Homo sapiens: one gene and its partners. The protein of the gene in region 3 purifies or fractionates together with the protein of the main gene of each other region. This does not show direct contact. Each region holds a gene or a part of one and is shown on either strand. Other genes may lie near its edges.

Region 1 (7,026 bases), on a different chromosome or scaffold from region 3:
AAGAATGAGGATCGTTTTCATTTGGGGTGTATGTTAAATTTCAGGTGGCAGAGAGGCATCCAGCAGGCCACTCGGACTGGCACTCAGAAGAGAGACACTGAGAGTCACTGGCATAATGATATTATATTTGAAGCCCTTGGAGCAGATGAACTTACCTAGAAATAGGATAGAGAAAGAGAAGAAAAGAGAACTAGGCAAAGGCTAAGTAACTTGCACATGTATGTGTCAAGAAGAGGAGAAATTGCCAAAGTTAAAACAGGACAGGCCGGGCGCGGTGGCTCATGCCTGTAATCCCAGCACTTTGGGAGGCCAAGGTGGGCAGATCACGTGAGGTCAGGAGTTTGAGACTAGCCTGGCCAACATGGAGAAACCCTGTCTCTACTAAAAATACAAAAATTAGCTGGGCATAGTGGCTCACGCCTGTAGTCCCAGCTACTCAGGAGGCTGAGGCGGGAGAATTGCTTGAACCTGGGAGGGAGAGGTTGCAGTGAGCCAAGATCCTGCCATTGCACTCCAGCCTGGACAATGAGCGAAACTTCGTCACAGAAAACAAAAACAAAAAAATAGGAGAGTAAGTGGAACAGGAAGCTCAGGGAAGAGACTGGGACAGGTTAACTATGTTGAATATTATTGAGATGTCAGTGGTATTATGATGTTGGGCAACTGGAGGTCATTGGTCACCTCGACTGGAGCAGTGTTGGGGGCAGAAAACAGCTTGCGGTAGGCTAAGTGTGATTGGCAGGAAAGGAACTAGAGGGGAGAGATGGCTGCTCTGCGTAATAAATCTGACCCACTTCATAAGATGTGCGAAGATGAAACGTAATGGCTTAGTAATTAATTGCCAAAGTAAACTTGTAAACTCATTTTTATGCATCAGCTTCTCATACTAGTTAACAGCGTATGTCAACATTGTTGACATTAGCTATTGAATCAGCTTTAGCAATGATTTTCACGCAGTTGCCAGAAATCTCATAGACCCCATCTGGCCTAGGAATTTATTGCACTTCATCTGCTTTTCCCTACTTCTCCCAAAGAGGGAACACACAGGTGTAATCCATTCACTTATTCAACAAATACTGCTTGCCTACTATGTGCCAGACTCCTAAACGCTGGGAATGCGTCAGCCAATGAGATAGATGAGGTCCTTCCTCTCATGGAGGGTTTATTCACATTCCTTTGACCTAAATATCAGTAGCTTAATAGGATGCCATCCCATCAAAGCCCAGAAGACAAGTGAAAACATTTTCAAGCTCATGTGAATTCTTGTACACGTAGGAAACATGCCTCTTTGTATTCAGTGTTTCTGCTGAGTTGTACATAAGAGGACATTATAGGAAAAACTTGTCTGCAAAATAGTTGTTGATGAATTCAAGAATTGAATGAATGAAAAATTGTCTGGCTAGAGTTGTTTGGCTTCTGGTGGGTATGAAAACTGACATGAGGTATGTAATTTTAGATTATCCTTCATTGTCTCTTTCTGAGTATTTCAATAAGACAAGCACACAAGGGCTTTCTGGACTTTTAAAATTCACTATTAGAAGCATACATTATTTCATTGAGGGTCTCCTAATTCTTTCGGGCTCAAATATTTTAAGGAGCTGTACAAGTTATGCCATTTTTTAAGGGTATGGCGCTTTCATTGAGACCTTAATGTTCTCTTTATATTTTTGTGTTTTTTTTAGAATGTTGTGTTCAGTAGCTCTGTAATTAATTTCTCTTAATGAATGGGGAGGACATTCAAAGAGGCTTAAGTTTCTATCAAATAACCAGAAAAATTAGAGAATTTTCTGACCCAAACAGTCTTTTAAAAGCACTTTCCAGAGAGTTTTTTGTTTTTTTTTTTTTTCTGAGATGGAGTCTTGCTCTGTCTCCCAGGCTGGAGTGCAGTCACACTATCTCGTCTCACTGCAACTTCCACCTCCCGGCTTCAGGCAATTCTCCTACCTCAGCCTTCCGAGTACCTAGGATTACAGGCACATGCCACCCAGCTAATTTTTGCATTGTTAGTAGTAACGGGGATTTCGCCATGTTGGCCAGGCTGGTCTTGAAGTCCTGACCTCAGGTGATCCACCCACCTCAGCCTCCCAAGGTGCTGGAATTACAGGCATGAGCCACCATGCCTGGCCCAGAGAGTTTCAAATGCATTGAAATATCAGATTTTTACCACTTATCTTCACTCTTAGGAGACCACTGAGGGGCAGGGAGAAAGGTAGGGAAGGGCAGGGAGAGAGAGAGAAAGAGAGGTACTGTGGGGAGAGGGTTAGAGAGAATTGATTCTAAGTTGGATTTTGTTTCCTGTGATAGGGTGTACATAGTATACCATCCAGACCACATAATCTCTCTTCTTATCATCTGTTTCTAATCTTTACCTATCATCTATTTAAGTTTTTACCTGCCTTAATAGAGTTGTCTGTTATTAAACTGTTTATAAACTTGGGGATAGTAAGGAACTTTAAATAACATTAAGTAAGTTCATTATAATTCTGTTTTAGGGCTACTCGTGGGTTTTGAAGCTGTGTCTCCCTGTAGAATTCTTTTTTGAGGGGGAGGAAGTAGCTCTTTTTTCCACCCTACCCCTAAAACTAACCTTTTTGCATAAACGACTTAGGCGTTCATGCCATGTGAGCCCCTGAAATACTGTAGTCTCATAGCTGCCAACTTTCTTATTTTCTGTCACACTTATCCTATTTCCTTGCAGCCAGGTTCTATGCCAATTTCACGTTTGTTTATTGCTACCAAGAGTCGTTATCAACCTCAGACTCACTCCACATGTATTGTTGCTAGCTTGCTCTTTAGTTCTTACCTCTGGGGCAGGTCACATTCTCTCCTAATACTAGACAGAGCATTTTCAACTTTGCTCACAGTTGTCTAGTAAGAAATGTGCCTGTAATTTGATGTTTATTTTGGCTTTGGAACCCAGGGCGTGCAAATGTCATTATTAGGAAGGGATAGGAGTCATTACGTTTCACTTAATTTGCCGAGTTGATTCTAGTGATCACCAGAAGCCCTGAACTACGCGCAGATTATTCTGTTAGGAATTAAATTGAGGCATTGGTTTTATTATCTCTGTGGGAAGCTGTTTGATAGAACAGGGAAAGCCATTGACTCTGATTCTGTCACCAGCTGTGTAACTTTCTACAAGTCACTAATGGAGCAGGGTCTTAAGTCCACAACATGATCATAAAATTAAGCACTTGGGTTAAGTACCCATCACAGTATTCCCAACTCATAGGAAAACAATGGTCAGATAAACAAGAAAATGTAAAGCGGAGTATCTCCTCACAGCAGAACTTATTTACAAATTTTACAAAGTAAAATTAAGTTGCAACCCCTATAAGTCTCTAAGTAGCTCATTTATTAGCAAAATAAGGAAAGCCATTTACCAATGGTGGATTACCTAAATTGTATTCGATTGTAGTAGCAGAAGTATTGTGTCCAGGGAAAATGAAATTATTTTACATGTCATTGAGAACCCTTGTCCTGGACTTTGGGAAGAACATCAATATCAATTAAAGAACAAAGCATGTGATTTTTGAGTGATTTTTCTTGACTGTCAACATACCGATAACTGATCAGTTGTTGATATTTATTAGATGATCATTGCCAAGTTTGAAGTGACTGAAGAGTTAGCCTCTGAATCATCTGTATAAAACAACTACAGGCGAGGATGTTTTCGAAGAAGCTGAGAAAATAATGATTGAGTATAACCTGGAATGGAATCTGCTAAGATCTATAAAAATTGACAGTAGTAAAAATATTTGTGAGTAGAAAAAGGCGGAGTTGAGCAAATTCACAAAACTTGTGAACATGCGAGGTGTTTAAAGCTCATGGTTATTTATTATAGTATTCCTTTTCAGATATTTTGTGGAAAATATTGGAATCTCACATGTGTTATTGAACCGGCAATATAAACCATGAGCTTCATTTGCTCTTGTGGATATAACCGTCATCATTTCTGTGAATTATCAGAAATAGAGGCCGGATATCCTGATGTCTCTTGTGACAGAGCCATTAGATAGCTTGCTAGCTGTAAAGTTTTGCAGTCTTTGAGTTCACAGTTGAGACTGAAGTTTTTCTAAACGAGCTGCCCCCAGCCACTATTACTGAACACGAATGGCTTTGGAAATTAGCTTTTGCTACAGACTTGATATTGTTTCTTAATGAATTCAACGCAAAATTACCAGACAAAGCCAGACATATGTGAGAAACTTACAGTGTGGTAAGGCAAATTTGACAGCTAATGTTTGAATCACAGGTAATGTCAACCTACTTTATATATTCCCCATGTTATCAAAAGTTAAAACAAGGTGCTAGACCTCCATTCTTACACAGCTGTCCAGCAGATACATTTTCTGTGCTCAAGCTACAGTTCCAGGAGTTTTCTGAGCTCAAGCTACAGTTCCAGGAGTTTTCTGAGCTCAAGCTACAGTTCCAAGAGTTTTCTGAGCTCAAGCTACAGTTCCAAGAGTTTTCTTACCTACTCTACTTTATCTTATTTTGGATTTGTACTTTTTTAAAACAATTATTTTACTTTCACAGAACTGGTTCTCCAGAGGAAAGGAGATAAAGACACTTGATATGTTGAATGAGTAACAAAAGAATCATAAATCTGTGTGGACTTTTTTTGATAAGTTTAGGAGAAGGTTCCATTTTGCCACTAAGCTTGGACAACTTCCCCTAAAAGAGTCTGTTCATTCCTTGTCTCAGGCAGTGACGTCAGTGTTGGGGGCCGTCCTCACCTCAAGGAGCGCAGAGTCTGGTATTGACAAGGAACGCAAACAGATGATTATAAAGCAGTGTCATAAACATGTTGATGAGAGTGTGCACAAATGCTGTGGGAGGAAAGGAGGGTATGAATATTTTCATATGGAAGATAGATGAAGACTTCACAAGAAAGAAAATGCTTGAACTGAATCTTGGAAGTTAGAACCAGCAGTTCACCAGGTGGGGAAAAGGCATTCTAGCAAGAGGGAATAGCACAGACACAGGCATGGAAGGGTGAGAGATGATAGGAAGTGCCTGCGTATGGCTATAAATACTAAGGGGAGTGTCAGGAGATGAGGCTGGGATGGTAAGTTACCATGGAAAGATGATGAAGGGCCCTGTGCTGTGTGCCCTGAAAATCTGGTTTGGGAGGCAAATCCCAGGACAGGTTGCAACACACATGGCTGGTAAGTGCAGATAATACATCCTATCAGGTCATTTACTTTTAGTGCTAAGTCAGCCTCTCTAACATAAATATTTTCCATCTACTTTGTTACATTTGTTCGTTACTCAATATATTTGAAATATTAGAGCCAAATTATAACACCTAGCACTTTTACAAATTGAATTGAAACTGAAAATCCACTTAATGGTTTAGGATTTTAGAAGTTTTCTTGGAAAGAAAAGACTTATTTTAAGAGGCATTGAAACGTATAAAAGAGCAATATCAGACTTGATGTTGTCTTCACAGATTAACTACTTTTGAAATTGCTTATTCCGTTGGCAAGCATTTGTTATTTTCTGAAACTTAATTTTCTTTGCTTTTCAGTGGACAGAGGACTGCAGAAAATCAACCTATCCTCCTTCAGGACCAACGTGAGTAAACATCAGATGATCAAAACTCCCTTTGACCTTTGTGAAGTTTTTTCTGTATGTAATAATTGCTCATAAACGAACGATAGTGAATAAAATCTTAAGTCATGTTTCCCATTCCGAGACAGAGGTTTGTTTCTCAGATTTGTTTATTATGCATTTGGCTGAGATCTTGGACAAATATGAAAATATCTTCCGATTCAAATGCCCGTCGCTAGACTATCAAAATCATCGGAAAGAAAAGGATTTTCAGCCAGACGCGGTGGCTCACGCCTGTAATCCCAGCACTTTGGGAGGCCGAGGCGGGTAAATCATAAGGTCAGGAGATCGAGACCATGCTGGCTAACAGTGAAACCCCGTCTCTACTAAAAATACAAAAAATTAGCCAGGCGTGGTGGCGGGCGCCTGTAGTCCCAGCTACTCTGGAGGCTGAGGCAGGAGAATGGCGTGAACCCGGGAGGCGGAGCTTGCAGTGAGCCGAGATCGCACCACTGCACTCCAGTCTGGGCGACAGAGTGAGACTCTGTCTCAAAAAAAAAAAGGAAAGGATTTTCATTCTCCACTCAATTCTCCTGTCTACCATGAAGGGTTTTTCTCATCTTTGACAAATGTAAGGGCTGTATTTGAAATGACCTGTGATTCTCTATGGTGCCTGGATATAAACCACCAAATTATATTGTAACAAAAAAGCATAGGCCCTCATATGTGAAACGTTCTCAAAATAAACCTTGGCACAACAAAGCTGTCGAGGACAAAACAGGATTGGAACACCTAAGAGGAGGACCAATGTCATGATTCAGTGTGTTTAACATTAATATTTTTAGTCTAGATTTTGGTCTTTCCAAATCCTCAGTGTTTAAATGGGCCTGTGAGAAAGCCATAATAACAGCTCACAGACCCCTCAGAGTGTACAGAACAGAGAAAAGAAGGAACAGGTATAGGGGGTGGTGATCTTTTTCTCCTACACTGCCCTTTCGCTGAAAGTAGCCTGCTGTTTGTAGGGGGAAACAGTACAACTCTATCTAGTGATATCAAGATGACATTTTCAGTTCGTGCAACATTCCAAATTACTTACGTTGTACTGTTGTTGTCTAAACGATGTATTTTAAATAGCCTCTGTCCCAGATAGCGTGAAACTGTAATAAACTAAGTTCTTTTGACTTACTCGCCTTTATGTAGAAAGAGGCCAGTATTTGGCAGGAAGCAATTTAGAGGTAACCAGTTTGGATGTTGTTTGGGGCCAGTGTTCATTCCAGCTCTTTCTTCAATGGCCTGCTGTCTGAAAGTCTTCCTTTCTGTCATCACTGGCATCATTCTGGCCTTCAGTGACATGTCTGCCTTACTGATTGATTATGTCTCTCTGTTGGTCTCACTGCCCCAATTCATTGAACATTTAATGAGGTGCCTTCCATGTTTGAGGCCGTTTCTACTCCCTTTTAGGTGCACTTT
Region 2 (7,026 bases), on a different chromosome or scaffold from region 3:
AGAAAAAAAACCCAGCATGGCCACGGCAAACCAATGGAGCAAGTGAAGGTCAGAAAGATGGTCAATGTTTTAAGGTGACAGACATAGCCCCTCAAAAACTTGCTTAGAGTTTCCATCTGAAAGTTACACTCAGTGCTTAAATTAAGAGATTATCTGTAAATACGACTGTATTTCAGTTCAGGGAACAGCCAGAACTCTTAAGGCTGGCCTGGATCTAATCATAGGGAGACGGTATGTTGAAAGGTATATACTGCCTGGAGATACACTGATGGTAGAGTCAGTGCAATCCACACAGGGAGAAATCTGTCTGGCCCTCTCCAGGGCAGAGACATGTCCAATACAACAGACATGACCACAAGAGTCACGAAAAAAGTACTGTCCTATATAGCACAGGGATAATGTACCAGAGCTCACCATATACAGTTCCAAGAGCCACCCCCTTCTCTACTCTATGTTCACCAAGCAATCTATATATGTCATTTCCCAGCAACCCCAACACCGGATAGAAGTGCCCTAGTAATGAGACATGACTATGACTACACACTGGTCACTGGAAAGGAAAATCCTTCACATAAGAATAGACAGACACCTGGTTTACACACCTGTCCACTATAGGCTTGCATAATGTGGGTCAGTTACCCTCGAACAATTATAAAACCAACTTTAAGAATTCAGAAAACTAATGATTACTAGATGCTAGACCATGAAAGGTTTATTGAAGTAATGGTATCTTTTGAAAGGCTAACTATATTCGATTAACAATTATGTTTCCTTGATAAAAATTTAATATAAATTCTAAAGGCTTACTCTGATTTGATGAATAGATTTGTATTTTTCTGGTACTGATAGTTCTCCAACAGACTTGATTATAGCTACTGCTTTGCTATCATCTGATGGATCAGAGCTGGTGCTATAGGATCCATTTTCATCACTGTCGGGCATCTCTTCCTCCTCTTCACTATAACTTTCATCAGAATTCTCATTTAAAGGAGATTCTGAATTTTCTTCCTTTTTAGGTTCATCCAATTGAAAAAGTTCTGAAAGCATGTAATTGGCGGAAGCAATAATCTTATGAAAAAGAGAGAAATATGTGTAAATTACTGTCATCAAAAAATACATGAATTTTACTACCATACTAACGAATTTTAGGAGGAGGTCTGCACACAGGCTGTTTCCACCATATAGACTGTAACACACACAGAAATGTTCCCAGTTCAAAGCTACTGATACTCTGGGTATGCTCTGCAAAATCTTTATAGGCTGATGCATTTCCTATTTCCCGAAATTACTCCACCCTGAGCCCTCCCTCTTAAAAGGTGTCAACTGAATTTCACTGGAGACAAACAAAAGCTTTTGAGTACAGAGTGTCATAACTAAAATATTAACAAAAATTTAATACCACCCTATGCCAAGTGAGAAACCAGAATTTTTCTTTACAAACTATAAATTAATTCAAGTTTCTCTATAATAGGTAACTAATATTTATCATATAATCTATGGTTCTAGAAAAAAAAAACCATTACATTAAAAAGGGAAAAGTCCATTCTGATATCTCTTAAAATTAGCATTTATATATGACCATTTAACCCATTCTACTATTTATCAGTTCTTAATCACAGACAATAGTCTTTAACACCATTTCTAACATCCAAATAAACCACTCAAGTTCCACTAAACACTGCCACCTCAGTCAGCAATTAGGTATTTCAGTCAGAAACAAAATGTTTTACTATTTTTCTTCAAAAACATTTCTGAGTTTGGTCTCTAGGATAATCTTTATCTCTAAATCAAATGTGGCTACAATTAAAATTACTTTGGCTCTTCAAAGAAAAATTGCGTATCTTACATACCTTTACTGATTTGAACAGGATACAACAAATAGCCTTAACAGTGAAAAATAAAGTTGTCAATCAGACAACCGAGGGTAAGGATGGTGTAAAACTGTTGGGAGCATGACTGAGGGAATATTTTAAGAGATGCTTTTTCCCCTTCTCTTTAAAAGAAATTTTACTGGCCTTTATTTAAGAGATGCTTTAATATCCTGAAGTGTGGAATGTGAACCCTATTTATATTAACAAAGTGGTAACAAGGTCTAATAGCGACAAAACAAAGAACTAAGGGCACTACTGTTAGAATTACATGAATTCTAAATTCATTGAGCAGTGCTGTCTGAGAGAAATGTAACATGAGTCACATACAGAAATTTTAAATTTTCTAGTAGCTACATTTAAAAAGTAGAATCTGTGAAATCAACTTAAATATATTTAATCCAATATATGTAATATTGCATTTCAACATGTAATAGGTACAGACATCCAATCTTCAAAATTCAGTGTGTATTTTACACTTACAGCACATGTCAATTCAGACAAAGCACATTTTAAGTGATCAACAGCCACATGTGCTAATGGCTACCACACTGAATAGGGCAGTTACGGAATATGAATCAGGAGGCTTTACTGTCTAGGTAACAATCTCCTATTAGAATGCTAGGATTGTTTTAGAGAATACATAAATGTTAATCTTACTTGAGGATGCCTACTTTTGTCCAGTAATTTCAGACAATTAAGAAGCAATGTTCTAATAGTTCCATAGTGTTTCTTATTTTGATTCTTCTTCATCATCATGTTGCAAGCAACCCTAAAAAAAGAGTTTATATCAACTTTACTGCCCATTTCATCGTTGTCTGCAAGACTCAAGTCTAGGAGTGCTCTTGTTTCTTTCCAACAAAGAGCTATAAGAAACAACAAAATACTAAACTTTACACTTTACCCACAACCCCCAAAACGTTTATACTATGGTGGCATAAGAAAGCTGAGTAATATTTGGTACAATGTGTACGTGTATTTTTCCCCCTACTATGAAAACCTAAAAGCATTTAAAAGCCTTGGTTTGGAAACTGTGACTGTATGCTTTAAAACTTTATATAATAGGCTACTTCTTCATCTTAAATTCTTAAAGCACTCACTTGTACAAGAGAATGGCTACCGGCATTGTGAATGGATTTTGGTATTTGTCTTCAGTTTCTTCACAAAGAGTAGTGAGGTCATAGAGCTTCACTATATCGCTGCCACTTGCTGAAAAGAAAAACAAAGAAGACTCATTTCACAGCAGTTACCCAAATCAATTATTGTTCACTCAAGAAGTATTAATAGCTTACCTTTAAAGAGCCAATAGGTATGTCCTTCTTTGGTACAATTAGATTTCAAAAATGATAAAATATTCTGTGCAATGTCTTTTATGACTTTAGTAGAAAAATTAGAATTTTCCAAATTGGGAATTTCTTCTGTCTTTATCATTTCATATTTCTGTAAAATACAGACAGATGGAAAGCAGTTTAAGAGAAAACCCAAGGAAACAACACCTTTCTTTTTAAAAAGCAACCAAATGCAGAAGTCCTGCAAACAGAGACCTATGTAGCATGAAAGTGTTTAAACCAGTGGTTTTTAATCTTTTTTCTGCCCCAGCCTCCCAAAGGAATCTCATCCACCCCATCAGCAAGGGCAGTTCACTATTGGAGTAATTTCAATGGAGAATCACTACCAGATTTAGAACCTCAGATTCAGGCATGATCTTATTTCTGTTCTAACATGGAACAAATCATACTGACTACTTTTATTCCACTTGAATGGTTTTCAACTGGGAAGATGGTAAATGAAGGTAGGCTTTACCCAGCAAGATTTTAAAACACATGTATTTCTGGCCTTTTTTTTTGCTAGAAACTACAGTCAGTGACTCAAGGAGAGAGAATCATTTAGGAAATTTTCCAGTAGACACCTCTCTTCCCTTCATCTATGGACTTTATTACTTCACAGGGATGGAGCAGGGGGGAATGGAGGTGGCAATAAGAGTAAAGGCTTCATGGACATTACTACCACTATTTTAAAAGTGCCTTTGCATTTTTCTTGTTTATCTTCTGTGCACACTCTCCTAACCATCTCCTACCACATTTTCTGAAGTACTCTAAAACTGGAAACTTCAAATCAACTGGAATGTAAGACCAAACACAATCGTCTGAGGTTGATTTTCACCCCACTTTGTTCATGTGAAGTCCCCAATGTTGATTATTTCCTTCCTTAAAATGCTCCTTTCCTGTATTTTAATCTGTGCTATTCTTGTTCTCCTTCTCTCTCTCTAAATGCCCTTCTATTTTTACCCCTATGAGGAGAGGCTCCAATGTCTGATTTTAATAGATTCCTCTGGTGATGAAATCTGACAGTATCTAGGCAGATGATGCTTCAATTTATTTCTCTAATGGCTGCAACTTCAAAATGCTCACTAGACATTTTTATACTTTCCTCAAACTGAACATGTGACAAAAACATATTACCTTCCCTGTCTAAACCAATTCAACATCCTTATCTCACTAAATGGCACCACCATTATTCTAGTCCCTAAACCCTGGAATCTCCTTTGACTCCTGTTCCCCTCCGCCTTGCTAACGCTTTATCTGCCTCTCTCTTTTCTCTTGCTCCCCACTCCCACCCCAGCCTCTCACTAAATGTTGCCATTTAGGGAGATGGTCTAACAGTGGTTTTCAATCAAGACTGCAAACCAGAATCATACAGCAGACTTTCAGAAAAGACAGAAGTACACATCCTACTGATACTAGAACACTGGGGGCCCAAGCAAGTGCATTTTTTCAGAGACCACAAGTGATTCTGATGCACAACCAGGTTAAGAATCACTGGGTTGGAATATAACGGTTCAAAGCATGTCCTCAGCCAGAGAGAGGCACAAAGACTGGCACCGCCACTCACTACTAAGTTGACCCTGGGCAACTCACTTGAGCTCCTTGATCCTCAGTCTCTCTTTCCATCAAATAGGAATAACAGCATGTGAGGTAGCTAAGAAGATCAAATAAGGTAAAGCATTTAAAGCATTCAGCAAAGTGCTTGGATAAAATAAGCACTCAATAAATGCTATCTATTCTTACCATTGTTGATTCTTAATAGTTCCTCTCTAGTGGAAAGTACATTACACTATCTGCAAAATGGTACAATGCCTCTGGTTTTCTTGTCTCTAAGTCCTCCTTTTCTGTCCTATATGCTATCTCTAAATTAATATTCTAACACAACAAATTTCCCCTCCTAGATGCAAAGCCTTCTGATTCCAGATTACCAACTGAACCAAGTCCATACTCCTTAGCTCAACATTTAAGATCTCCATCATTTGACCATGACTTTTCCAACCTTACTTGCAGCTATTCTGCTACATAAATCCTGTGTTCCCTAGCTGGATTTATTATCAATCCTTTCATGTATTTACACTAGACTTTTAAAATCCAGCTCTTATTTTTTGAGATACTAGCTATCATTCAGGACTCAGTTAAGATGTCCCTTCTTCCACAAAGTCTTTCCTCCAGACCTGAATGGAAGTGCTCACCCCCTTCTCTGATGATCTAGATTTCTGTGTGCTACACTTCTAATTCTTATCTGTCTCCTACTGTTCTCTCTGCATATTATTTCCCATTAGATTATCTCTTTCTGAATAACAACCAAGCTTATTCTTTGTTTTCCTTCAACAATTATTTATTGTTTAAATTCTCAATTTTTTTATTTTTTTGAGACAGGGTCTTGCTCTGTCACTCATACTGGAGTGCAGTGGCACGATCATAGCTCACTGCAGCCTCAAACTCCTGGGCTCAAGTGATCCTCCTGCTTCAAGCCCCCAAGTAGCTGGGACTACAGACATGTACCACCATGCCCAACTAAGTGTGTGCGTTGTTTTTCTACAATTAGGGTCTCACTACGTTGCCCAGGTTGGTCTTGAACTCTCGGCTTCAAGTGATCCTGCTGCCTCAGTCTCCTGAGTAGCTTGGGATTACAGGAATAAGCCAACACGCCTAGCTTCCCCCAACACTTATAATGGGGATACGTGTCTTCTAAACAGAATATGCTCAATAAGAATTTGCTATATAAGCTATCCACCATATGCAATTTTTACAAGACCTTTCCCTAAAACTTTGCATGTACTGAGTAGATATTTGCATAACGAAGAAACGCCTCCATTGTGTAGACACTTTCAGTTAATTATTAATGAGAGCTTGGCATTAAAATTAGAGTTCTATGGCTACAAATGCAGGTTTTCATATATTTATGAACTTCCTCCAAATTACCTGTAAAATTATACTTCTATAACATCTACAATTCTGTTATCACCAACTTAAATGTACACTCAAATTCAGTTTATTCACAGCTATCTTCCCTGGCAAAAATGCACCTTAGTACTTCAGGGCCGTAAAGACTTTGGTGAGGAACTCTCTGTACCAATTTGCATTTGAGAGATCAGAAAAATCACACTGTATCTTACCTGTACAATTCCATTTACATGAAAACACATCACAAGCTCTGGCACATTGCATATCAAGTTGTCCAACCAATAGTCAATTCCAGTTAGCACATTAATTGGTTTGTTGTTATCCCTAAAAATATACATTTCTAGTGTTATTTGGTTTAATTAAGATGTTCCTTAATTAATCATCTGAAAGTTATTTCACCATTTAAGTATCTTAAGCTGTCCTCTCTAGATAGAAAATGCCATCTATGCTTTCTTTTCTGATAAGATATGCACATGCAGCTCAGTGGTTGTGCTATATTTAACATCTTTCCAAAAGCTTGCTTGTATTTCTAACTGACATTGGTAAGTTTTCAGTAAGAATAGAAGACAATATAATAGGAAAGGACGGTGAGCCTACTGCCTGCTCCTCACACACAACTTGAAGAAAGACTGAACACCATACAAGACCATGCTTAAGTTGGAATTCACATTGGCTAATATCAACAAATACACGTGGAGCATTAAGAAAAATGCTCACAAGTAGTTAGTAGGAATCTAACTAATTAAATAAACTCTCTTGAATATTCTCACAAGTTGTAGATTCAGACCTAAGACTAGGCCAGTCCAACAAACCTCTGGCTCTATTCAATGAGGTCTAGAATGAAGACTCAGCTATAGGCCTGCCTTTCAGCATCTGCTGACAGTAGCTCCTTCCTTAATGTGGCCATTTCAACTGGCAGGGGAAGG
Region 3 (7,598 bases):
TGTAGCCTCTTAGAGGCTTAGTGTTCTCATCTGTAAAATGGGAATAATAATAGCTATCTCAGAACAGTGGCAAGAATAAAATGAGTAAAAATATAAGTACTTTGTATAGTGTTAAGCACATAGGAGGGCACTGAACAAATGTTAATTCTCTTCTGAATTATAAAACCTAGTGAAACTCCTTACACTATAAGTAATACCCTGTAAATGTTAATTGAATTTACGTAAATGTTAATTGAATAACTTGCTCCCTAATCTTTCTCAAGAGTTTTTCCTTTTCTTGCTAGATATTTTCTCCTCCCCTCTTAACAACCACTCATCTGTTTGTATAATTGCAATAGAGACAAATACTATAGAAAAAGTTAACCAGACTTGGGTAGAAAAAGAGATTTGAGTTCTAAATCTCTTTCTTCAGATAGATCCAATCTACCATATTGAAATTTTACATATCATCCATCATCTCTGTGATCATCAAACACCTTGTTTTCCATAAATTTTCTACTTGGAGAAAGATTATTATTTTGACAATTTGGAGACAGAGCTACTTAATAAGAAGCCCTTGAAAGATTTAATGCAGCAAAGATTTGCTCTAGACTTTACAAGAGCCATGAAACCAGACTCTATATTGTCAAAAGCAATATAAAATTCCATTTTCTTCATCTCTGCTAGAGTTTGGCTGAGTCATTCTCATCACCTCAATTATCTTTAACTTCATTCTTTTTTTTTTTTTTGAGATGAAGTCTCACTCTTGTCCCCCAGGCTGGAGTGCAATGGCGCGATCTTGGCTCACTGCAACCTCCACCTCCCGGGTTCAAGTGATTCTCCTGCCTCAGTCTCCTGAGTAGCTGGGATTATAAGAGCATGCCACCACGCTCGGCTAATTTTTGTATTTTTAGTAGAGACGGGGTTTCACCAGGTTGTCCAGGCTGGTGTACGAACTTCTGACCTCAGGTGATTCTCCCGCCTCGGCCTCCTAAAGTGCTGGGATTACAGGCATGAGCCACCGCGCTTGGCCTTTTTTTTTTTTTGACACAGAGTCTCGCTGTGCTGCTTGCTGTGTTGGAGTGTACTGGTGCAATCTCGGCTCACTGCACCCTCCACCTCCCAGGTTCAAGTAATTCTCCTTGCCTCAGCCTCCCAAGTAGCTGGGATTACAGGTGCCTGCCACCACACCTAGCTAATTTTTGTATTTTTTAGTAGAGACGGGGTTTTGCCATGTTGGCCAGGCTGGTCTTGAATTCCTGACCTCAAGTGATTCATCCGCCTCAGCCTCCCAAAATGCTGGGATTACAGGCATGAGCCACCACGCCTGGCCAACTTCATTCATTTTTATATTGTATGCACCTGACAAATCAGACACAATCAGAAAGAATGAAAATAGCAAACTGTCAATTGAGCTCCCATATTTCCAAGATCATTGTTAACATACAATTGTTGGATTTTTGTGTTAACACACAATTGTTGGATTTTAATTAAAAAGCTAATTTTGAATCATAAGATCAGGTAATATTTGTTACACAAACATTTAATATTTGGGTCAAGCAAGTATTTATAAAGATATATTAAGAATATACCACATTTTAATGAAGCATAAAAACAAAGCTTCTAAGATTTACAAAGCATGATTGGAAACTTCCCAGAGTCACTATCACACTTCTTCAAGATTACTTCATGAACATGCCATAGCCTATTTAAGGATCAATACATACTGGATGTATTACAATGGGCAAGATGCTTTACTTCTTTGTACCTAAGTGTCTTCTGTAAACTGGAGCTAAAAAATAATACTTACAACACCTTTGAGAACCACTGGTCTAAAAAGCTGTTTAATATATCTGACTGATACACAGACGTAACTGACCATATTAGGGTGAAGCAAGTAGAAATTTAAAGTACCTCTGCTTTACAGTCTATTGCACACACACACTCACTCAGTCACTGACTTGCCAGAAACAATTTGATTGCCTAGGCTAACAACAAAGGAAGTCTACTTTTACAGTAAATGATGTAGCCTGGGGAAATTGGGACAATTTAAAGTCAGAAGTGAACCTAATCCAAACTATATGTCCTATGGAAGAGGAAAGTGAGGTCCAGAGAGATGAGTGCCTAACTCAAAGTCACTACTTGTGAGACTGTCAAAGTCATGGTCAGATCTCAGTATTCTGACTCCCTATCAAGTGCTTTCCACTAGACACACTAATTATTGGTAGCCTGTCTGAGGGAAATAAATCATAGCCCCAAATAGAAGTGGAATCCACGTTGGCACAGTTGGGTGGTGCTACATACTCACACATTCTCAGGATTCACTGAGAAAGTAGGGAAAGTCTTCCAAATTTCCTCACTATACATATTCTACATGTAGAGAATAGAATTTTATACTATACAGGAATCAGTCTTAATAATCTGGTTAACAGGTAGGCTCTCTTCCTCTACACAGCCCTTTACTTGATATGTCCACAGGAATCCTTTTAAATAAGTAGGGGTGCAGATCAACATGGATATGACTATTAGCTCTTCTGACCCATCTCACAAGTCAGTGTCAACAGTTATCTATTACTATAATGTTGTATCCTAGGTAAGAGTCTCCATTATTGTTCTAATTATTTGGAATCTATAAAAAGAGTGGGTATGTGCAGCAAAGAATTAACCTTACCCAAAGAGGGGTCCAGTCTTCGCTCCTGGCTACTGGGAGGTGATCTCTAGGCGCCTGGGATGTCCTGCCTGATAGAAGTGTCTTTGTCTGTGGGCTTTGGCCACCAGACAGTCTATCAACATGATTTATAATGGGTGTTTTGATCCACGCTGTATCAGCTCAGACCTCTGGAGCAGCGGGAAACTAAAAGTATTCAGGAGGGGCTGGAGATTAATGGTCAACCACAAGGGCAGTGTGAGATTGAGCCCCAGTAAAAACTCTGGACATCAAAGCCTCAGATAAGCTTCTCTAGTTGCAATATTCTATGCATATTGTCACATATCATGGCTGGGAGGAAGTAATGCAGGTAATGACGTCAATGACTCCACAGGGATAAGATGACCAAAAGCTCTATGTTTGTACCCCTCCTGGACTCTGTCCTATTCATCTCTTTCCTTGGCTGATTAATTTGTATGCCTTCACTATAATAAAATTGGAGATGTGAGCACAGCACTTCCCTGAGCTCTGCGAATAGTTCTAGTGAATCATTGAATGTGAGGGTGGTGATGGGGCCCCTAAGTTTGTACCCAGCTGGTCTGAAGTGAGGTGGTTCTGGGGACCCCTGAACTTGCAGGTAGTGAGTGTTGAAGTTAGGGCAGTTTTTTGTGGACCGTTCCCTCAGACTTCGCAGTTTGGCTAAACTCATTGCTGCGTGATGGTGAAAGTGAGGGTGAGAAAAGATCAGGTAAGATTAGGTATGATTCTTAATGGGGAAGTCTATGAAATTGGTGAGTTCAGGGGCTTGTATTTGGGAAAAGGTACATTTAGGGAAGTCTCTCCTAGATGGGAGGTAAGAGATCAAAATTCTGCCAGAAAAATTAGATCCCTTTGACGAGTAAGACCCACTTCAGACCAACTGAGTGACAGTCCTGACAGAGTGACCTTAGACAAATGACTTCAAGACTTAGTCAAATGCAGCTATTATATATGTGATAGTTAAAACCGATGATATATGTGGAAATATCTTAAAGTTACCTCACATAAATGTGAAAACAAAATGCCATGATCATTTCAGAAACATCTGAGTGCAACTATTACAAATTGAGCTGTATTGGACAAGACTTTCTTGACATTTCCCCTCTCAAATTAAAAAGGTCTTTCACTAAGTTTTTAAATGTCACATTTTTTCATTCCAAGTTATCTTGATTTTTCTGTGTGTTCTCCAATGAGGAACATTTAGATCTAAAAAACTGGGGTGTTTAAGAAAAGCAATTCACATATTTCAATTTGTCTCCAAATTTCTTATCACCTCCTAGAGTGTCCGATTTGTCTCTCCTCCACTCCCGACGTCATGGGTTCAAATTTTTCAGAATATAACATTTAAAAATGATGCCTCAGCGTGAGGTTAATTTTTCTGAAGTAAAGGTTCCGGGTGAACGGTTTTAGAGTTTTCCCAGAGGCAGAAAGTCCTGCTTCTGGGGCGTAACCTACAGGGTAAGTCACCGGGAGTGTGCTGGGCCGTGGGGGAAGGTCTGGGTGGGCATTTTTGGGAGCCTCTCGCGAGTTGGAGGGAGTCTAGGGGCGGCGCACCAAATGGGTGAGCGTCGGTGAATCGGCGCGCGGGACCTCGCTCGGAAGTGGCGCGGCTGGGCAGGGCAGGGCCGGGGGAAGCCCGTTTCCCACCTGGATTAAGATGGATCCGACAGGGTCGTGGTTTTCAGTGTTCTGTGCCATGGCTAGGTCAGGGAACGGCTACCTCCGCGGAGGCGCGGTTTCCAAGCACGGAAACCTTCAGCCGGAGCCGCTCGTCCCCATGGCAACACCGCGCGCGACCTGGCCTGTTCCACGCTGGGAGCGGAAGGGGGTCTAGGGGCGGGGTCAGGCCAGCCTGGTCATTCCGAGAACGCCCTCTCCGGCCTGTCTCCCCCTCGCGCCGGCGGCCGTGGTGCAGCCCAAGGCGGAAGCGGCTGCCTGACGGAACCGGCTCGCGAGCGCAGCTATGGCTGCTGGCGTACCCTGTGCGTTAGTCACCAGCTGCTCCTCCGTCTTCTCAGGAGACCAGCTGGTCCAACGTGAGTAGATAGGCGCCTGGGCCGACCTCCAAGGCCCCTGAGCCTCAGCGGGCGACGGACCCAGCACCACGGCCTCTCTGGGCCTTGTCCCCGCAGCGGGCCCTGCGTTCTTCCTCCAGTCAGTGGAGGCGCCCAGTCTCCCCAGGTGGCTGCCCCTATCTCTTAATCTCGTGCTTTTCTGCCCACTCGGCCTTCTTCGGCGTTCCTTTCGGCTTCCTGTGTAAAGTGAGACTGATTTCCCGCTCTGCTCAGCCCAGGCCACAGGTTTTTGCGAGGATCCGTTGAGATGAACCTGAAGGCTCTCCGGAAATTGCGCTAGGTTACAGGAGTGTAAGGTGCTGGAATTGTTGATATCGTGATGTTGTTATCCTTGCTGCTCCGGGAGAGAGTGTTTACTCTGAATTCTGAAGTTTATTCTGCGTATTTACTCTGAAGTTTATTCTGCTTCTTAATGTGTACATTATAAGACTTGTTAGCTTTGTCCGCTCCACTCTAGTTATTCACGCCTTTCATCTGAGGCATGGGCTCTCCGCCAACATGAGTTTTTGGGTATGATTGGGCTAGTGCTTTTGCTTGTAGACCCTCATAATGGCTGTCAGACTTACTAACTCTTAAAAGAGAGAACATGGGACTGGATAATAAGCCAACTCTACTAAAGGGCTCTGTGAAGTTGAATTATAGGTAACTCAAGACTTCTGTTTTAAGTGTATGGCTTAGAATCAGAGCAGTGACTTAGCTGTATGATCTCGAGCAAGTCACCTAACCTACCTACATTCCTTCCTTCTTTTCTTTTTTTTTTTTTAAAGAGACGGGAACTTGCTCTGTCGCCCGGGCTGGAGTGCAGTGATGCGATCATAGCTCACTTCAGCCTCGAACTCCTGGGCTCAAGCGATCCTCCTGCCTCAGTCTCCCGAGCAACTGGGACTGCAGGCTCACACCACGAACCCTGGCTAATTTTTTTATTTTTTGTAGAGCCAGAGTCTTGCTATGTTGCTCAGGCTGGTCTCCAACTCGTGGTTTCAAGTGATCCTCCTGTCTTGGCCGCCCTAAGTGCTGAGATTACAGGCGTGAGCCACTGTGCCTGGCTACCCTTCACTTTCTCTTTTCTCTCCTTTTTTTTATTTTTGTTTTGAGATAGGGTCTCACTCTGCTGCCCAGGCTGTAGTGCAGTGGCGTTATCTCGGCTCACTGCAACCTCTGCCTCCTGGGCTCAAGCCATCCCCCTACCTCAGCCTCCCAAGTATCTGGGACTACAGGTGTGTGCCACCACGCCCGGCTAATTGCCCCCCCCCCCCCCCGTCATACGGGGTTTGGCCATGTTGCCCAGGCTGGTCTGGAACTCCCGGGCTCAAGTGATCTGCCTGCCTTTGCCACCCAAAGTGCTGGGATTACAGGTGTGAGTCACCACCGCGCCCGGCCCCTTCACCTTCTATCTATAAAATAGGGATAATTTTCGCAAGATTGTGCTTATCCCCGAGTCTGGCACATAGTAAACATTTGATAAATCATAGACATTATTATTAAGGCACATTACTATCTCTGTAACCCTCAATTTCCTGATCCTTAAAATGGGGCATATGAGCCTATTTCAGGAGTATTTGAAGGACAGATGATGTGACATTTTGAACACACTTTGTAAACTGTAAAGCATTGTATAATTATAATTTCTTTGCTACACCTGTCAAATGACAGAATTAGGTAAGATGTCCCTTCAGTGCAGATATTATATGACTTAGTTATCATTTGTGATCACTTAGAAAGTTCCTTGCTAGGGTAAAAGCTTAATTATAGCATTTAACTAAGTGGTTACTAACTGGTCTAATTAGGCCATTTTCTTACCTTTAAGCAGTGCTCCTTCCTATTTTCTCCCTTCCCTCCTTTCTTCCTTCTTTTCTTCCTTCCTTCCTCTTTTTTCTTTAATTGTTTCATTGTAAAACTAGTGCATACTAAGTAAAATTTAGCATACAGAGAAAAGAAAATAGCCATAGTCTCATTACCCAACTACAAATACTGCTAACATTTCTTTCCAGTCTTTTTTTCCATTGCAGTTTCTTAAAAAGAAATAATTGTAATTACATTTAATACACAATTTTTTCTGTTTTTAAAAATTTTTTAAATACACAGTTCTTATCCTCAGATTTATCAAAAATTAGTTTCTCACATATATCCATCTAGTGAATAAACCAGAATTTGCTCAAGATTCTTAAAGATGTAACTAACTTTCCAAAAGACTTACATGCATTAGGAATCCTATTAGCGATACATGGAAGTCTTTTCAAGACAATCTCAGGAATATTAATTATTCTAAATGCTATGGTGCTCTGTTGTGTGCTTTAATGATCCCAATCGGCAAACATGGTCCCTGCCTTGAAGTAGCTGATTACCTGTAGTTAGCAAATAGTAACATTGTACTTCTGTAAAGTGTATTAGCATTATTGGGGGTAAAATTAATTCTGTAAAATAATCCATTTTATCTCTGTATATAAAATGCTCTTAGATAATTCCAGTTCGGGTTAAGATCAGATGACCTTTCCATTGCAACTCGTTACTGTCGTGTAGTAAAAAATAAAAGAAGAACAGCTAGTGAGCAGATTACTTGAATAAGGAAAAGTGAACCATAAAAGAGGGCTTATAATTTCTTCCAAGGTTGTGAATAGGGTAGCAGTGGATAGCGTTAAAATGAAGTATTTGCTGAGCATTCATTCTTTGACTATAATTAAAGCTGGGATTAAATTAATCACAGGTTGACTCTAATTTTGAGGTAAGAGATGGAGCCCGCATAATATTTTGTCAAGTGTTCGGTGATATTAGGCCGTGGAATAGTTTTGGATTGAATTGGATCTACCTTTTTGGGAAAGTTTGGTTCTACTTCATGTATCAGCGAGAGAAACCTTTAG
Region 4 (6,967 bases), on a different chromosome or scaffold from region 3:
ACTACTTACAAACACATCTCATGTATACACAAAGTTTTTAAAACATCTATGTGATTGAAATAGTCTACATAGTCAAGGTATTTACACGTGAGTAAGATTCTAAAAATCAGATAAAAGGCATGTCAAATATTAGTCATTACTTTATAGATTTTCGGGGAAAAAGAATTAGACTCTATCTGTACTTGTCTCAATTCAGAGAATTACTCACACAATTTAAAATACTGACCCTACTTTCCCCTGCAATGAAATGAATTCATTAAACTCTTCTATAAAGATGATTAAGCATGAATAATCATTTATGCCTTTAATTATATAACTAGTTTTCAAAGGATTTCCCTGCCTTTATCATTTCAGCCTCAGTAATTATCAATCAAAACACTAGTTATTTTAAAAACACAAAGCTTTACCTTAAACCTATTTCATCTAAATCTTTATTAATCGTTATTTATAAATGTCATCACTGAAGTCTGCAATTTCCTAAATGACCTAACATTTGATTCTATTTCACCTTTCTGACAAACAAAAATTATACCTTTTGTAAACAATCTTCAGATCTCGCCACTCAAGGAAGCTGCACATTTTAGGTTTCCGTGCTAAAACGGTCTGAACAAGTTCTCTTGTGATCTTTTTCTTCTCTTTGTCTGATAGTGGGACATACCATTTTTGCAGTCGAAGCTTTCCCTGACGACTAAAAAGCAACATAAACTGCATCTGTTAAGATAAATAAAATCAAGATTACATGTAATACTTTGAATCAATAAAGTTAAGATTATGTGTTTCACAGAGAAGTTTTGGGGGATGGGGCATTTACATGACAAATGATTAGTAGCCATCAATATTTCTATGCCAATTAAAATAGCAAGAAATTCTTTTGGACAGATCTTCCTCTAGATGCAAACCTTCCAATCCCACCTTGTTCCACATTAAGTTTGAAGGGGAGTGTGCAGGAGAAAAAAGAAAAATGGGTAATAAGCTGAAGTGAAATTTTTGAAGAAAAATAAAGATCACTCTTTCAATTTAAGAAACTATTTTCTACCTGTGCTATACATTGCGCACTCTCTATATGCATCAAAAGAGAATGGTAGACATCATCTGGTTTGGGTACTTTTGAAAGAAACAGAAGACCTGCTATTTTTCATCCTGAGGCCGTTCTAGTTCCAGGGTGAATTACTTGCAGACAGTAGCTTATGTCTTGGAATGTTCTCCTCAGTTTATGATGGCATATTTTAAGCAAAACAGAATGATCCAAAATATTAACTGAAAAATCCCATAAATACAAATTTTCATTAATAAAAAAGTATGTTTTCATCTGACTTTTAAAGCATTCCAACTTAAATATGTACAAAATCTAGAACTGAGTTAATGTATTATGAAAAAGAAAACAAACGTTTAAAAGGCCACAATAAGATTTACACTTATTAAATAAGATTCAGCATTGAAACATTACATGAAATACTTCATTTAAAATAAAAAATAGTATCTACAGATGGAATGGATGCTGAATTCTAGTGTGTTTTATACTTAAACTAATTTGTATGTATTTATTTGTGATCTGCAAATGTGTTGATTAGTCTGCATGTTTCATTTTTAACGCCAAGCTTTTTGTAATCCAATTGGTCATCTCAACTGCAAACAGAAGTATTGTTTCTACAAAGGTAATTTAAAGGCAGAATTCACATAGGTATCCTTTTTTCTTTTAATCACTGTTAAGTTCCTTTAACAGCGTTACTGCAAATAAGATTCAAGCATGATTCTCAAGATTCACCACACCATCTTGAATTTGAACACGGGGAGGGGAAATTTACAGAACCAATGTAGAATAAAAATGGGCCCTAAATTTCGGTAAGAAATTATCGTCGCTTTTTGTAACCACCCAAAAAGGTATCAACAAGATATCTAGAAATGTATGACGTGGCAATTCAACTTTAGTAAAGTTAAAATGGTCTTATTACCTCACTTAAAATGCGTCAGGGGAACAAAATATAAGGACATTATTAGGTGATACCAAAGTGCCTCCCGTGCAAGTCCTGAAGATAGCGGCATTCGAAGGGGGCAGGAAGTGAAGCATCAACTGGGCATTTACTGCAAACCCGTTACCAGAACTTGGAAAAGAATGGACCTCGTATTCCTAGATCTTGGTGACCAGAAAGGGTGAGGGTTTGCCTGCGAAGAGTATGGGCTCAAGGCTGTCTGGAGCAGGGTCCTGTATCCGCCCTACCACTTTGCAGGACGAAAAAACAATGTATTCTCCTTAAAATAAATTATGTCCTAACATGGGACGAAACCCGGTTGCAAAGCACGAGTATTCCTTCCCTCGTGTTAAAAACCAACGCTTTGATTTTGCCGCAAATCACAGGGCACCACAATTCCTCGAGACTGGCATTAAAAACAATGGGCTCAGCCGCGGCGCGGGCTCGGGGCCAGCGTTCCTCGGGTCCGGCCGTCGCCGGTGCCTCCCCCCCACTCCCGTGGCCACACTCCATCACTGACCAAGCCCGGGAGAGGTGACAGGCAAGGAGCGGAGCAGACAATGGCATCCGCCGCCGCGCAGGGGGCGCCAAGAGTCCTCGGCCGCCACCGCCCCCGGCCCCTCCCGAAAGCGCCCCGCAAAACTTGAGGCGATTCCCGAACCACAGGTGCCGCGAGGCTGTCGCGGAGCCCGGGACTGGCCCCCACATCCCCGGGCGCGGCGCGGAGTGGTGCGGAGGGCGCGGACACGGAGAGAAGTGAGTTGCGGGCGCGGCGACCCAGTGGCGGGCCGGGCAGGCTCGGGGTGGGGTCGTCGGGGCGCGCGCGGGGTGGCGGGGGGCGCGCCCAGTCCTCCCTCCCCCTCTCCCCCATCCCCGGCGCCCCCTTTCGCCCCCAGGGACTTACGGCGGCCGCGGGCCGCGGGCGCGGCGGAGCTTGGCCGGCGGCGGCGGCGGCGGCGAAGGGGAAGCCCCTGTCGCCGTGCTGAGGAAGAGAAGCCGTGGTGCTGTGGGGAGGACACCCGGCTGGCATAGGGCAGGCTTAGGCGGAGAGGGGAGGGCAAGCTGACAGACCCCGCCCCGGGGGCCGGACGAGGGAGGAGCCGGGGCTGCGGCGAGCTGAGGGGCGGGCTAGGCGACGCGCGGGAAGCGGCTCAGCGGTCGCCAGCGGCACCGGAGGCAGCGCGGGTAACCGCTGAGTCCAAGGCAGCCGATTGGAGGTTTCTTCGCTGAGGGGAGGTGCGAACCGGAAGCCGGGCCACGTGACCCGGAAGCGGCGTTTGCCGGGCCCGAGCGCCCGCGCGCCCGCGCGCTCTTGCAGGTGCCTCCGGGACGCGCGCGGGCGGCTGTCCTGCTTGTTTAATGATAGGAGGACGGGATTCTGCAGCGTCCTTAGCCTAGCGGGTGGTGCGGGGCAGGGAAGTTCCGGACAGCGAAGAGCCACGTTCGAGCTCTAATGATTCTCTGTGTCCCCAGAGAGGAAGTGTGAAGTGTGACGGCTGACGAGGAGGGTGGGAGGAGACGAGGGAGTGCTGCAACTCTGGAAAAACAAGTCAGCTCTTCTGTGGAGCTCGTCACGCATTCACGGGCCTTTTGCTATCATTCTGCCTCAAAATTGTCCGGAATCCGCCCTCTCCTTCCCATTGCACTGCTCCAGCCCTAGCCCAGACACCTTCCGCCCCGAGCTTCGCGGGAGTCTGTTCCCTGGGCTCGCCTCGCCCATCCTCGGTGCTGCGGACTGGATGAGTTACCGTCCGTTCGGCTGAAAAGCCCGGACAGCACCTCACCTTCGAGATCCCGCTTCCTTCACACTGGGTCGCCCCACCAGCCGCCTGGGTTCCAGTTTAGCACTGCCGACGACTTGCTGTGCCTGGCATGTCCTTGCTCCCAAATGTCACATCTATGAAGCCTCACCCTAAAACCCTGTAAGAGCGATTCCCTCTTTCACCCACATGCCCGTTAGCCTTTATTTAGCACACCTTAAATTGTATTCATTTTGCATCTCAATCTAGTTCACAGCCTGGTATATAACAACTAATAAATGTGAGTTGACTGATAAAGACTATAAAATGATAAATTTGTTAAGAGCTGTAATGCTGAGCGTAATGCCTGGGCATAATGGATGTTCATAATTTTCTGAATGATAGAATGGATGAATCATCTAGTCATTTACAGATAAGGAAAGGGGAGTCCCACGGGATTAGGTGACCTTCCTTGAAGAGCCACGGGTTTCCCATATCGAAATGCTATTCATTACCCGAGTCACCTAGGTTCTTACAAAGGAAGCGAGAAAATTGCTTTTGTTGGGCCATGCCCCTTTTGCAGAGGTTCCTAAGTATAGTCGCCAGAATTTTTTTAATGGCCTAAAGTAAAAAAAGAAATGCTAAAATTTTCACGAAGCTAAATGTAATCAATGTAAAGGAATCCTTTATTAGGGATTATATTCTTTTTGTGTACATTATAGTATCTATGAAACTAAGACAGTAGTTTTGGGGGCTTTTAAAAAATGCTTTTGTATGACAAAACAAAAAGAAATGTGTAATACTTCCCCTTTTCAAGCACTACTGTGCTGCTTGGAAAGTTTCCTACTAACATGTATGATTAATGTATACTGGAATATTAAAGAAAGGGGACGACACACGGCACAGAGCTGGCTTTCTGTAGTTCTTTAGGTCCCCCTCGCCCCCACCAGATTTCTCCCTACCTAGTCATGCCCCAAAGGTGCTTTCGAATGTCCCATTTCTCTCTTACTACAAGAAACAGATGCCATTAACCAGTTAAAAGATAGCTCTAATGCTACACAATGAAAACTCGCCCTCTGAATCCAAATGCTGCTTTTCTCTTTTTCTGTACAAAACACTTATATCCTGAAGGTTCCTGAGATAGCCACTTCCAAGTTTAAACTCTGATTATGCTCCTAATGTTGCTCTGAAAATGAGGACGGGAGACTTGCTGATGACATACTGGCAGTCTCCTTTCCTGCTCCTAGCCAAAAAAAGGTGGGGGTAGGGGTAGGGAGGGGAAGGAATTGTGGGAAAAATAATTAGCAGCTGAAAGCAGCTATTACATAATCTTGGCTGCTTATTAATTTAGCAGAAGGAATGGCTTATTAAATTCTAATAGCAACAGCACAACTGCAAACAACCTAGCAATTAACAGTGCAGGGCCCATTATTTTGTTAATATGTTCTCTTCTTTTGGCAAGTGTATGAGAACAAAATTTATAGAAGCAGATGGTCTTTTTCAATAGATTATAGATGGTTTATTCCCTAGTCTTAGTATTAAGTGCTAATTATGCATTCACTGTGAAAGACAAAAGAAACATGGTTGCCATCTTTGTTAGTAATTAACTGCTTGACTTTGATTCCCACAATTTCCCAATTGTAGGCTTTGTTATATACATGTTTCTTCTCACCTAGTGTCTTCTTCATCCGTCATGTCAATTGGTTATCTTTTTTAATCCTGTTTTTGTTTTCTAGATGGTCCTGATTTATTGGTGTTAATATTGATACAAGAATTATATACAAAATTCGTTTCATGAAAAACTAAAAATCAGATTTTATACTTGTTTCTTAAATTTGAAAAAAATGCTTCACTGTCATTTATGCTAAATGTAAGAGGTGAGGGGAAAATAGAAATCTTTACCTTCTAACGATAAAATTTTGAGACTTTTTATGTAATCTTTCCAAAGTTTTCAAAAATAATTTTAGTTTCCTATTAAATGTGTGATGGCCATATACTTTTATCCTCTCACTGTCTCAAAATACCATTAATTTTTTTTAAAGGGACTATTTAAAACACATACCCACGTGGAAAATAAGAGAGGGAACATTTACATGAGGATGTCGATAAGGATGTCAGGATACACTGTCAGCTCATCATTTAAACACTGATGATTTAAAGAAAAATTGTCATATATTGATATTATGGAGGAGCAGAAGTGAGGGAAGGTTGAAATAATGCTAAATCCTCATGTGCTAAAGGGAAGAAAATAGATAACATCTAAAATAAATCACGAACTAGAATTATTAGCATATTCTTTCGATACCAGGAAGTAAATCCCAGAAGCAATGGTGAATTTCTTTCCATGGACAGAATCTTGCAGTAGGATGTAATAAAGGGTATTATTACATTTTACTTAGGTTTTTTCTTAAATAATTTTTTAAAATATTGTAAGGAGGTAGATAAAAACCATTCCATTAGTTGCTAGCTCTGTATTATGGACTTATACAGAGTTCCTTTAGCCAGTCTATAGATTATTTAGAAATTATTAAATAAAAATGCCCAATAATGGAATTCAGTGCTGAAGCCTTGTAGATCACAGAAAGTGTAAAAAAGATGTTTAGAGTTTGTGAATTTGCATCTCCAAAGATAAAGTTGTTCCAGGGAGAAAAATGGCCTAAAATAATGAGGATTTGTGAACCAAATCATTTCAAAATAGATAGAGCTGTCACTGCCAAAGTCCTCAACAATGAGCTAAAGAGAAATGTGGAACATATGCTCTTTCTCGAAGCCTGTTTCCATAGCTTTGAATAAAATGCAGGAAAATTACTACTGCCCTATGAACATTAGGATAGAGCAGTGATTCTCAGCCTGGGCACTTTTGCCTCCCAGGGGACACTTGTCAGTGTCTGGAGACATTTTGGTTGTCACAACTAGGAGTAGTAGGTGATGCTGCCAGCATCTAGTGGGCAGAGACCAGGGATGCTGCCCAGCATCCTGCAACATACAAGAGAGATCCCATAGCAAAGAATGATCCAGCCCCAAATGTCACTAGTGCCAAGGTTCAGGAAGAAATCCTGGGTTAGTCACTGAAAATATTAACATGCAGTAGCATATTTTTATAGACATTTCAAGAAATGGAACAAACATTATCTTCATATAAGTTTCTCTCTCTCTCTCCCTCTCTTTCTCTCTCTCTCCTCCCTCTCCCTCTCTCTCCCTCTCTTTCTTTCTCAGAGTTGGAGCCATTATTCTTAATATCTGCTAGATAAAATCCTT

Evidence for each region.
Region 1: the proteins of AAGAB (region 3) and ASAH1 purify together in Homo sapiens (affinity purification with mass spectrometry; 3 studies listed by BioGRID and IntAct, with this or other methods). This does not show direct contact.
Region 2: the proteins of AAGAB (region 3) and EDRF1 purify together in Homo sapiens (affinity purification with mass spectrometry; 3 studies listed by BioGRID and IntAct, with this or other methods). This does not show direct contact.
Region 4: the proteins of AAGAB (region 3) and AP1S2 purify together in Homo sapiens (affinity purification with mass spectrometry; 3 studies listed by BioGRID and IntAct, with this or other methods). This does not show direct contact.

Annotation. Positions count from the first base shown.
Region 1 is NC_000008.11:18,074,095-18,081,120, reverse strand, and holds part of ASAH1 (acid ceramidase isoform a preproprotein), read left to right. Parts: intron 1-5,533; coding exon 5,534-5,580; intron 5,581-7,026. UniProt on the Homo sapiens protein: Lysosomal ceramidase that hydrolyzes sphingolipid ceramides into sphingosine and free fatty acids at acidic pH.
Region 2 is NC_000010.11:125,729,686-125,736,711, reverse strand, and holds part of EDRF1 (erythroid differentiation-related factor 1), read right to left. Parts: intron 6,441-7,026; exon of another isoform or gene 6,425-6,440; coding exon 6,313-6,424; intron 4,848-6,312; coding exon of another isoform or gene 4,787-4,847; intron 3,309-4,786; coding exon 3,161-3,308; intron 3,078-3,160; coding exon 2,969-3,077; intron 2,641-2,968; coding exon 2,529-2,640; intron 1,069-2,528; coding exon 808-1,068; intron 1-807. UniProt on the Homo sapiens protein: Transcription factor involved in erythroid differentiation. Involved in transcriptional activation of the globin gene.
Region 3 is NC_000015.10:67,251,662-67,259,259, reverse strand, and holds the start of AAGAB (alpha- and gamma-adaptin-binding protein p34), read left to right. Parts: upstream 1-4,598; 5' UTR 4,599-4,628; coding exon 4,629-4,701; exon of another isoform or gene 4,702-4,846; intron 4,847-7,598. Other genes in the region: IQCH (IQ domain-containing protein H), read right to left, coding at 4,313-4,363. UniProt on the Homo sapiens protein: May be involved in endocytic recycling of growth factor receptors such as EGFR.
Region 4 is NC_000023.11:15,851,814-15,858,780, forward strand, and holds the start of AP1S2 (AP-1 complex subunit sigma-2), read right to left. Parts: upstream 3,001-6,967; 5' UTR 2,875-3,000; intron 712-2,874; coding exon 533-711; intron 1-532. UniProt on the Homo sapiens protein: Subunit of clathrin-associated adaptor protein complex 1 that plays a role in protein sorting in the late-Golgi/trans-Golgi network (TGN) and/or endosomes.